Linked DNA regions of Homo sapiens. The protein of the gene in region 3 interacts with the protein of the main gene of each other region in a pairwise test. Each region holds a gene or a part of one and is shown on either strand. Other genes may lie near its edges.

The links.
Region 1: the proteins of E2F3 (region 3) and MGA interact in a two-hybrid assay, tested with the Homo sapiens proteins (one study listed by BioGRID).
Region 2: the proteins of E2F3 (region 3) and CCNF interact in a two-hybrid assay, tested with the Homo sapiens proteins (one study listed by BioGRID).

Annotation. Positions count from the first base shown.
Region 1 is NC_000015.10:41,761,360-41,765,110, reverse strand, and holds part of MGA (MAX gene-associated protein), read right to left. Parts: intron 3,373-3,751; coding exon 3,261-3,372; intron 2,983-3,260; coding exon 2,749-2,982; intron 226-2,748; coding exon 49-225; intron 1-48. UniProt on the Homo sapiens protein: Functions as a dual-specificity transcription factor, regulating the expression of both MAX-network and T-box family target genes. Functions as a repressor or an activator.
Region 2 is NC_000016.10:2,446,308-2,450,058, forward strand, and holds part of CCNF (cyclin-F), read left to right. Parts: intron 1-2,547; coding exon 2,548-2,671; intron 2,672-2,974; coding exon 2,975-3,155; intron 3,156-3,520; coding exon 3,521-3,608; intron 3,609-3,751. UniProt on the Homo sapiens protein: Substrate recognition component of a SCF (SKP1-CUL1-F-box protein) E3 ubiquitin-protein ligase complex which mediates the ubiquitination and subsequent proteasomal degradation of target proteins.
Region 3 is NC_000006.12:20,404,750-20,408,500, forward strand, and holds part of E2F3 (transcription factor E2F3), read left to right. Parts: intron 1-3,751.

The DNA.
Region 1 (3,751 bases), on a different chromosome or scaffold from region 3:
TAGGGATAACTTTATCACTTCCCATAGAGGACAACACTTACAACATACCTGGTAGAGCCACAGCACTACCGGCAACTTGAGGCTTAAGATCAGATTCTAAGAGATCAGGAGAAACAGCTACCACTGGTCCTGAGAATAGGGGACCTTTTAGGGTGAGCAATTGCCCTTGCGGAGTCATCACAAGGTTGGCAGAGGTGTGTGGAGTGTTCAAGGGTGAGGTATTTTCTGTAAGAAAGATCAGAAATTAGTTATAGATAAAAGGCATTCAGCTGGGTGTGGTGGCTCATGCCTGTAATCCCAGCACTTTGGGAGGCTGAGGCAGGCAGATCACTTGAGCCCAGGAGTTCAAGACCAGCCTGGGAAACATGGTGAGACCCCATCTCCATCTCTACAAGAAAAATTTTTTTAAATTAGGCGGGTGTGGTGGTGTGCACCTGTGGTCCCAGCTACTAGGAAGGCTGAGGTGGGAGAATTGCTTAAGCCCAGGAGGTCAAGGCTGCAAGCGAGACACTGCACTCCAGCCTGAGCTACAGAGTGAGGCCCTTCTCAAAACAAAACAGCCAAGTGCGGTGGCTGACGCCTGTAATCCCAGCACTTTGGGAAGCCGAGGCAGGTGGATCACGAGGTCAGGAGATCAAGACCATCCTGGCTAACACGGTGAAACCCCATCTCTACTAAAAATACAAAAAATTAGCCAGGCGTGGTGGCGGGCGCCTGTAGTCCCAGCTACACGGCAGGCTGAGGCAGAAGAATGGCGTGAACCTGGGAGGCGGAGCTGGCAGTGAGCCTAGATTGCGCCACCGCACTCTACCCTGGGCAACAGAGCGAGACTCCGTCTCAAAAAAAAAAAAAAAAAAATACCCACACCAGATTTTTTTTGGCTCATACACTGGGCTATCCAAACATTTAAAGAGTAAAAAAGAATATACCATTTTTTTTTTTAATTTTTTTTGAGATGGAGTCTCACTCTGTCACACAGGCTAGAGCACAGTGGTGTGATTTCAGCTCACTGCAGCCTCCGCCACCCGGGTTCAAGTGATTCTCCTGCCTCAGCCTCCCAAGTAGCTGGGACTACAGGTGTGCACCACCACATCCGGCTAATTTTGGTATTTTTAGTAGAGACAGGGTTTCACCATGTTGCCCAAGGCTGGTCTCAAATTCCTGAGTGCAAGCAATCCTCCTGCCTCTGCCTCCCTAAGGGGTGGGATTACAGGCATGAGCCACTGCGCCCAGCCAGATATACCATTCTCTAAGAATATAAGTAACACATAAAATCAATATAACTTTACTTCCAAAATCAAGATGGTAATAAGAAGTTAAGACTAATTTACTTTGGGGTTTTTGTTTTGTTTTGTTTTGTTTTGTTTCAGACAGAGTTTCGTGCTTGTTGCCCAGGCTGGAATGCAATGGTGTGATCTCAGCTCACCACAACTTCCACCTTCCGGGTTAAAGTGATTCTCCTGCCTCAGCCTCCTAAATAGCTGAGATTACAGGCATGAGCCACCACACCTGGCTAATTTTGTATTTTTAGTAGAGACAGGGTTTCTCCATGTTAGTCAGGCTAGTCTCAAACTCCCAACCTCAGGTGATCTGCCCGCCTCAGCCTCCCAAAGTTCTGGGATTACAGGCGTGAGCCACCGCATCCGGCCTACTGTTTCTTAATAGTAATGTATTAATAAGTAAGTGATCTGATGAAAAATAGAGCCTGATGGCCAGGCGCAGTGGCTCACGCCTGTAATCCCAGCACTTTGGGAGGCCGAGGTGGGCGGATCACGAGGTCAGGAGATCGAGACCATCCTGGCTAACACGGTGAAACCCCGTCTCTACTAAAAATACAAAAAAAATTAGCCGGGTGTAGTGGCAGGCGCCTATAGTCCTAGCTACTGGGGAGGCTGAGGCAGGAGAATGGCATGAACCCAGGAGGTGGAGCTTGCAGTGAGCCAAGATCGCGCCACTGCACTCCAGCCCGGGCAACAGAGCAAGACTCTGTCTCAAAAAAAAAAAAAAAAAAAAAAAAAGGAAGAAAGAAAAATAGAGCCTGATTTGACAAAATTAAATTTTACAAAAAATTTCCCATTTATTGGTCTCAGCTAGACCCAACTTCTTAAACCCATCAGTAGAACTGCAGGGAAATCACGAAGTCAAGTATAAGTCTGAAAAGATAAGTTTAAAAAACTACTCATTAAAAATACATGACTATAGACTAATATGCTACCAGGACTGGTAACTTCTCAGGATTTGCATGAGTGTGTATTACAACCAGAAACCAAAATCGAATGTAGTTAATATTCTACTTTTTATACAACCCATCTTTAATTCATTTAATTAAAACTAAAACTGTGGGCTGGGTGTGGTTGCTCACACCTGTAATCCCAGCACTTTGGGAGGCCAAGGCGGGTGGATCACTTGAGGTCAAGAGTTTGAGACTAGCCTGGCCAACAGGGCAAAATCCCATCTCTACTAAAAAATTAAAAAAACAAATTGGGCATGGTGGTGCTCGCTGTAGTCCCAGCTACTCAGGAGGCTGAAGCAGATAATCGCTTGAACCTGGGAGGTGGAGGTTGCAATGAGCTGAGATCACATCACTGCAACTGCAGCCTGGGCGACAGAGCTGTCTCCAAAAAAAAAAAAAAAAAAAAAAAAAAAAAACCACACAAAACTAAAAATGTGGACAAGAGAAGGTGGTCAGTCCACTAAAGTCAACTGATGTATATCTACATTAAGGAAAGCGAAGAATGTCCCTCCTACCTGTGGCCTGGTCTTTTTTTCTGGAAAGAATCAAAGGTTTCCCCCTCCTGTTATTTATAAACATCTGTCCAAGATCTACAGATGATGCAGAAGATCCTTCCTGCTGTTTGCTAATTCTGGGAGATATGTCAAACTCATCTGATCCCATCTTCTTTTTTCTTTTTTGTGCCTCTAGTGCTTGCTGTTTTGCATAAATATACTCTAGCTTCTTCAGGACCACTTCTTCTGTCTTACCTGTAAGTTAACAGAATACATTAGCACTTTCAGCATTACGCCACATAATGAGAAACAGAGTCAACAGAAATCTAGTTGCTTTAACTATATTCCCAAAAACTATGGAAAGTAAGGTGATTACAATTCACAAGAAACAACCCACCACCCAGTCAAAGGATAACTGTGCTGTAAACTGTGGGAGCCAAGCTTTCAATTAAGTATCTGAAAGATCTACTGAGGATTTCTTCTTGATAAAGCTATAATTATGCTCTTTACCAGAGATTATTTACTTATCTCACCTGAAAGAGACGATACTTTCCGTATCAGAATATTCCGTTTTCGAGTCAGGAGATTTTTCTGTCCTATCAATTTGTCTGCCTGATCTGTTAGTCCCTGAATTTCACTGAAGGCCTAGAATACAAATAGTGGTATTATTGAAAATTGATCCACTCTTTCTTTAAACACAGCTAAGGCCTATACAATTTCTCTAATGAAAAAAAACTTAATCTGACATCTTAAGAGAATTTTTAAATTCCATTAACAATTGTTGATGTTTCAGAAATTATTTTTTGTTAAACTGTAAGAGGATTTCTGGCTTACACTTTTAAGGAATGTGACCATGATTATTTCCAAAGAGCATCACTGAATGGTAGTAGGTATTCCACCACTGCGAGGAGATACAAAACACCTGTGCTCTGCTTAGATTTTAATAATCAACTTTAAGATCAACTCCTAGTCTAACCAAAATCTGGTTGAAATAACTGCTCTAGAGGGATATGAATGCTTATCC
Region 2 (3,751 bases), on a different chromosome or scaffold from region 3:
TGAAGTTGGGTTCTAAAGTCTGTTGCCAGAGTTTCCTACACTCTTGGAGTTAGAGAGTTTTTCGTCCCCCACTGGTGCCCTGCAGAGCCCACTCCAGCCACGTGGGTGTCTCTCAGCAGCAGCGTGCGTCCTTACACGGCAGCCTGTCCTTTTCAAATCAGACCACTGCTTTCCTTTAACTAATGCTGGATCCCCTAGTTCCGCCTTTGGAAATAACGTGGAAATGATTCTCACAATACGATTTGCATTTCCTAAACCAGCTGTCCCCAGCATGGTCTACATTTCCCGAGGAAGTGCTTTCCAGACCGACTCCTCTGTAGAGCCTGGTGGGTGAGGATAGGCTTGGCTGCACACAGCATATGTGTAAGCTACAGAGACTTGTTTCTTTCTTGCACAGGTAACCCAGAGGCAGAGGTTCCAGGCTCAGGTCATTGGCATGTTTTTTGTTTCATGAGGAAGCAGAGGAGCCCCATCTCCCATCTTAATCTCTGCCACCAACTAGGGTGCTGCCCTTGTCCCTGTGACACCTGTACCTGCCACATTCACCTTTGCACTGAGCTTAGTCTTGTGACCACATCTCACCAGACGGGAACTGGGAGGTGTAGTCTCTTCGGGCCTGTGTGTGCCAGCTCGATGCAGTGTCATTCCCATGGAAGGAGGGAGCAAACCCTGCCACAAGCATCCAGAGCTGTCTTCAGATGCGCTCTTGGGCCTGAATCCAGCGTCCCAGGTCTTCCGACCAGAGACGACTGAGGAGGTCGGGCGGCCGCCTCCCTGGATCTGACTGCACATCCATCACTGCAACCTACGACAAAGCTCCTGGGCCACAACCGGCTGGCAGTGAGAGAATAACTGCTAAAAACGTTTCAGGGAGCTGAGTCCAATTTCTTCCCCAACCACAAGACCTGATTGCAGTGGTCCATATAACTATCACCACAGCTCCCTCAAATCAACTCTGCCTTATTATCTTTTTTTTTTTTTTTTTTAAATCCGGGGACCAGGCACGGTGGCTCACGCCTGTAATCCCAGCACTTTGGGAGGCTGATGTGGGCGGATCGTGAGGTCAGGAGTTCAAGACCAGCCTGGCCAACATGGTGAAACCCTGTCTCTACTAAAGATACAAAAAATTAGCTGGGCGTGGTGGTGCATGCCTGTAATCCCAGCTACTCAGGAGGCTGAGGCAGGAGAATTGCTTGAACCCGAGAGGCAGAGGTTGCAGTGAGCCAAGATTACACCATTGCACTGCAGCCTGGGCAATGGCGCAAGACTCTGTCTCAAAAAAATACAAACAAAATTAGCCAGACGTGGTAGTGGGCGCCTGTAGTCCCATCTACTTGGGAGGCTGAGGCATGAGAATCACTTGAACCTGGGAGGCGGAGGTTGCAGTGAGCTGAGATAGCGCCACTGCACTAATCCAGCCTGGGTGACAGAGGGAAACTCTGTCTCAAAAAAAAAAAGATTTTAAAGGCTGAGCTGCCCCCCACCTCTGCTCTCAGAGGTGCCCTGCCCCCACCAGCCATCTCACACCCCACGCTGGGCTCTCATTGGCCACTGACATCTTGTCTTTTTGGCGTCTGCAGCCCCCACGCTGGCAGGTGTAGTCCCTGCGCCTCTTGTCCTCTTGGTCAAGTGAATGACGCATGCAACCTGCAGAGTCCCCAGGACAGAGCAGCCAAGGGACTTGGCCTCAGTCCAAGGGGAAGGTGCCTTGCGGGGGGCCGCTGGAGCAGCGTGTTCCCTGATAGTTGGCGCTGGTTGACAACAGAGAACAGGGTGACCATCGCCTAGAGACAGTCAGGATTCCTGCGGCCACACAGTGCCGGGCACAGACTTTCCAACAACCCTTGGGCCCTTTGCCTCCAATTCCTAGATCTGGTGACTCACCCACCTTCTGGGTCTATAACATTTCTACCCCACTGATAGAGCTGTCACGTGACAGGCAAATCTCTGTCCTTGGTGTCTTTTAGCAAACTGAATGCTCAGGGCACTTGGGCCTTTTGCAGACATTTGTGAGTCTGCCTAACAGCCTTGCTGCTTTCTGTCTGCCTTGTGGCTCTCATCCCTCTTTCCAGCACTTTCTGACCTCCCCTTTGTTATTATTATGATGATTATTTTTTGAGACAGTGTCTTGCTCTGTCACCCAGGTTGGAATGCAGTGGTGTAATCAAAGCTCACTGCAGCCTCAACTTCCTGGGCTTAAGCAATCCTCCCACCTTAGCGTCCCAAGTAACTGAGACTATAGGCACGTGCCACCATGCTCTGCTAATTTTTTATTTTTTAACTTTTTGAAGAGATAGGGTCTTGCTTTGTTGCCCAGGGTGGTCTCGAACTCCTGGCTGAGCTGTCCTCCTGCCTGGGCCTCCCCTTTTTTAAATGCCCCTTGTCAGCCACAGGCAGCTGGCTCCATTATGAAGCCTCTGTTTGTCACCAAAGCCCAACGCCATGGCTCCCTCCCTACCTTGAGGCCTCCTAAAGCCTTGGGTCCCTCCGCCCCACCCCTGCCCCAGGAAGTGGGCTCCACCCTGAGACCCCTTCTCGGCGTTGCAGGTTTATCAGTAAAGAGATCCTGACCATCCGGGAGGCCGTATGGCTCACGGACAACACTTACAAGTACGAGGACCTGGTGAGAATGATGGGCGAGATCGTCTCCGCCTTGGAAGGGAAGATTCGAGTAAGCAGCGGTTCCATTTTCCTTATTAATCTTCGTTGTCGCTGTGCTGGAGGGTGGGGGTGGGCATTCAGCTTTCCTGCTGTGGGAGGGCCTCATGGACTCAGAGAGCAGCTGTCTCTGCTGTGCCCAAAGCCATGGAGCAGGAGGCCACGGTTGCACCACGTCGCCATCTGCGCTGGTGCGCTACGCGTGCAGCATCGGCGTGAACATCATCCGGGCCAGACCCTGCGCTGGGCCTGCATGCGGCACTGCACCAAGGAGCCCCCGAGCGCTGAGAGCCCACACCCCGTCCCGGCTGTCTAGGTCCCCACTGTGGTGGATTACAAGGAGGTCCTGCTGACGCTAGTCCCTGTGGAGCTGAGAACCCAGCACCTGTGCAGCTTCCTCTGCGAGCTCTCCCTGCTGCACACCAGCCTGTCCGCCTACGCCCCAGCCCGCCTGGCTGCCGCAGCCCTGCTCCTGGCCAGACTGACGCACGGGCAGAGTAAGGAGTGGCCCTTCCCAGGGATGCCTGTGTCGGGGAAGGTGCTGACATAGGAGGAGGCTGTGGGGAGGAAAAGAGTCCAGCATCCATTTGTCCTGGTTACTTCTTGGGGGGTGAGATACAGCACGGCTCCTACCTTCAGTGATGTCCCAGATTTCTGACCATGAGCCTGCACGCCCTATGTATGGGTTTTTTTCAAAACTATTTTAAAAGGATTGCAACCCTGAGCTCCAAGAAACTCCACAGCAGAGCCCACAGAGCTATAGAGCGGGAGTGTTCAGGCGGCTGTCACCACAGCCCCTCCGTCCCCTCCATCCCCTCCGTCCCCTCCATCCCCTCCACCCCTGGCCTGCTTTCCTCCCCAGCACAGCCCTGGACCACTCAGCTGTGGGACCTCACCGGATTCTCCTATGAAGACCTCATTCCCTGCGTCTTGAGCCTCCATAAGAAGTGGTGAGTTTTGGCCGGGCGCAGAGGCTCATGCCTGTAACCCCAGCACTTTGGGAGGCCGAGGCGGGCAGATCATTTGAGGTCAGGAGTTTGAGACCAGCCTGGCCAACATGGTGAAACCCCACCTCTACTAAAAATACAAAAAT
Region 3 (3,751 bases):
GCAGGGGGGAAACGGAGCACAGTACCTGCTTAGACATAGCAGTATCCGGTGTGCTGGGTTTTCAGTCGCAAGAATATTCCATGCTTTTATTAGCTTCAGATACTCTTACTGACTTGACCTAAGCATGTTTGGACATATTTTAAGCATATTTGACCCCTGCACAGTTCTGTTACTATTTCATAAACCTAACCTTAAACAACCAGCTATTGACATACTTCTTGGATTAGATTCACAGATTTGCAGGGGGTAGTTTTGATAATGGGAAATTATGAGAGCTTCAAGTTGATTTTTAAAAAATTTTAACAGTGTTTGTTGGGCCAGGTCCCTAAGACTATCTTTCAAGCCAGGTTTATTATATCTAGTTCATTGTATTTAAGTATTTAAAGTATACTAAATTACCCTCACCATCTTCCAAGTTATTTCAAAACTTTATTCTCCTTGACATGAAATTATTATTCCAGGAATAATAATATCCTTTTGAGTTTATGTGCACACAAAAGGTTTTTCATTACAGGAATATAAATGTTACTCATATACATATTCAGAAGCATTTTTTATATGATTGCAATGTATGCTGAATCATTGGTTATCTGCATTTTTTTTTTTTTTTTTTTTGAGACGGAGTCTCATTCTGTCGCCCAGGCTGGAGTGCAATGGCACGATCTCGGCTCACTGCAACCTCCGCCTCCCGAGTTCAAGCATTCTCCTGCCTCAGCCTCCTGAGTAGCTGAGATTACAGGCGTGAGCCACCACGCCTGGCCGGTTATCTACACTTTTAAGAGCTATTTCTACTGGCCGGGCGCTGTGGCTCATGCCTGTAATCCCGGTACTTTGGGAAGCCGAGGGGGGCGGATCACGCGGTCAAGAGATCCAGACCATCCTGGCCAACATGGTGAAACCCCGTCTCTACTAAAAATACAAAAATTAGCTGGGTGTGGTGGTGCGCGCCTGTAATCCCAGCTACTCAGGAGGCTGAGGCAGGAAAATCGCTTGACCCTGGGAAGCGGAGGTTGCAGTGAGCTGAGATCCCGCCACTGCACTCTAGCCTGGCGGCAGAGCGAGATTCCGTCTCAAAAAAGGAGCTGTTTCTTCTGGGAGGGTGTAGGAAATTTATCTAGTCAATGCATACAAAGTCTTAAGCACTGAATATAAAGTTTGATTTATTGTTTTTCTTATCGAAATTATATTAGACTTCCATGTAAGTCTTCGAATTTTGAATTTTGTTGATATTCTTTCCCTAAGCAGGAAAGACAGGATGGGGAAAGCTAAGTGATTGGCTGAACAAAGACCACCTAAACACTCTGTGTCCAAGAAGAGGTTGAAAAGTCTTCAGGTGGCCAGAGTTGCAGACCTATCTGGTTCTGATCCCAAGTTCTGTCTCAAGAATATCTAAGGACTTAACCAGAAGCAACTTCTTCACCTTTTTTTCAATGGGGGTAAAAATATGAGTACTACCTTACCAGCTGTAAAGCATCTATTATTTACAAATTGTATGTTCATTGGCAAATAACTTAATCTCTCAACTCAGTTTCTTCCTCTGTAACATAGGGACAAAAACAGTGTCACCTTTAAGGTTCTTTTGAAGAGTTAAATATGATAATGCATGTGAACTATTTAGCACAGTGCCTGGCAAAAAGTAGACACCCAGTACAATTCATATTTATTATACAAATGTTAATTTTTTTCTGACTTAGTGAAATAGTGTAAGGCCAGGTGCACATTGTCCCTTTGTTTACATATATGAAGAGAACTGTTAAAAGTCTTTAAGTGATCTGTAATTAATTATTTATGCCCAATTAATTTGGGCTTTTAAATATATAAAACATGGCCATCCTAGGGGTAAAATAGGGACATTTCAGTAAGACACGCCTATATAGAGATAGTGGTGTTGAACTGCCAAGCATATGCCTTGAATTGTGACAATTCAAGGCCACATCATCCTCACTTTTTTGCCTGAGTTCCACTCCGTCCATGATTCCACAGACCTGCCAACTTTTGGGTGCAGTTTATGCTTAGCGGCTTTTGTTAGACCTGAACTCTCAATCTTCACCATGTCAGAGACATGCATTAGACAAATTCCATCTTAGTTGGTGAACTGTTGGAAATGTAAGAACTCCAGAGAAACCATAGTCAGAAGTGCTACTCAATGGAGCAGACAAGGCTTCATCATTTTCTGCTGCTGCTTCTAAAAAGAAGCTGAAATTATTTTATTCTAGAAAATTTGGGATTTAATAATGTAAGAGACTATGTCCTGTCACAGTCATAGCAACCTACTGATTCTACTTTGGGAAAGAGCCCTCAGTGCTTGAAATTTTCATCTAAGAATGGAGAACCATAGGTGCTATTTCAGCAGGGTCTCTTTTCCTGTACAATTATAAAAAGAAAAGTGCCGGGTTCCTGTGGTTCTATACTCAATAATCTTGCTTCTGCTGAGATATATGGTTGATGCCAAGTTTAAGCTGGGAGACAATTTTTAGTCACTACATACCCCAAAATGGAAGTTTTAATATAATGCAGTGCCCAGACTTGGGCACTACAGGTAGCTCCACTATAATCAGTACCAAGGGCGCCACTCTAATCATCCTCTGAAACAAAGCACCCTTAAATATGGCACTGTGGGCTGAAGAACTCCACCTTGTGAACAGGAAAGGATTTTTTGTTTTTCTATAAATCGCCACCTTGTGTATTACTTGGAAGAATGGATTCTGAGATTAATGTTATACTGTGTAAAGCTAACTTGAAAACAGAAAATAATACTCTAAGCCTAGACGTGCATAAATAACATTACCTGGAGATTGACAGACGGGGTGAAAGCTTTTATTGTGGTTTCTCAGAAATATATAAAGCAGTAGTTTTCCTTTAACTCTTCTGTCTTTAATGCCATCTGCAAAGATATATCATCCATACCTTTAACCTCTTTCCTAGGGATTTGGACCCATTTGGCAAATAGCTTCAAGTACTCATAGTTAATTTTCTGGCTGGTTTTCCTAAGTTAACCTGATTTTACAAATATTCCATTTGTAGGACCAGTTTACATCTACTTTCCCAAGCTAGCCAACTTCAATTCCCTTTTAGTCATCTACTTCCTACTAACAGCTGTAACTAGGATGAGTCAAAATCAATTGCCTATGCTCACCAGATCCCTGATAAATTCCCATGAAGCCACCTGAAAGGTGGTAAAAGCAAGGTAAAACGTGGTGAAAGCAAGGTAAAGAAGGTAGATTTCACAATTTTGTTTTTTAAAAAGGGGAATCTTCCCTGAATTCTTTGAGGTACTAAGTACGTGGTTTAATGCATATTTTCATTCTTGTTAGCAGTTTAAAAATAATGTTTCAGAGACTGTATTCACGATTGCTAAAAAGCATTTTTTCTACTAATCATTGTTCATGGGACTTAACAATGGAAGATAACTGGGAAAGCAGTAAATATAGGAAACCACTAATAGTGTCTCCTTCTTCCTACCCTGACCCTCTCTTTGGCTTCAGAAAGTGACGAGGAAAATGTATCTTTCACAAAGAAAAGTTATACCACAGAAGGTACTAAAAAGCAACAACTGCCTTTGGGGACAGGAAACTTACAGAGTGGGGATTATTATAGAGGGATAACATACCGAGTTTCTATTTCAATAAGAGGGAAATTGGTTTATATTCTGTTCACACTTGTTTCAAACCCTCTCCTCTAAAAGCAATGTGTTTTTGGAATTCAAGGAATGTACGTTCTTTCCCCAACCTTAACTGGGGGTCAGTCTTAT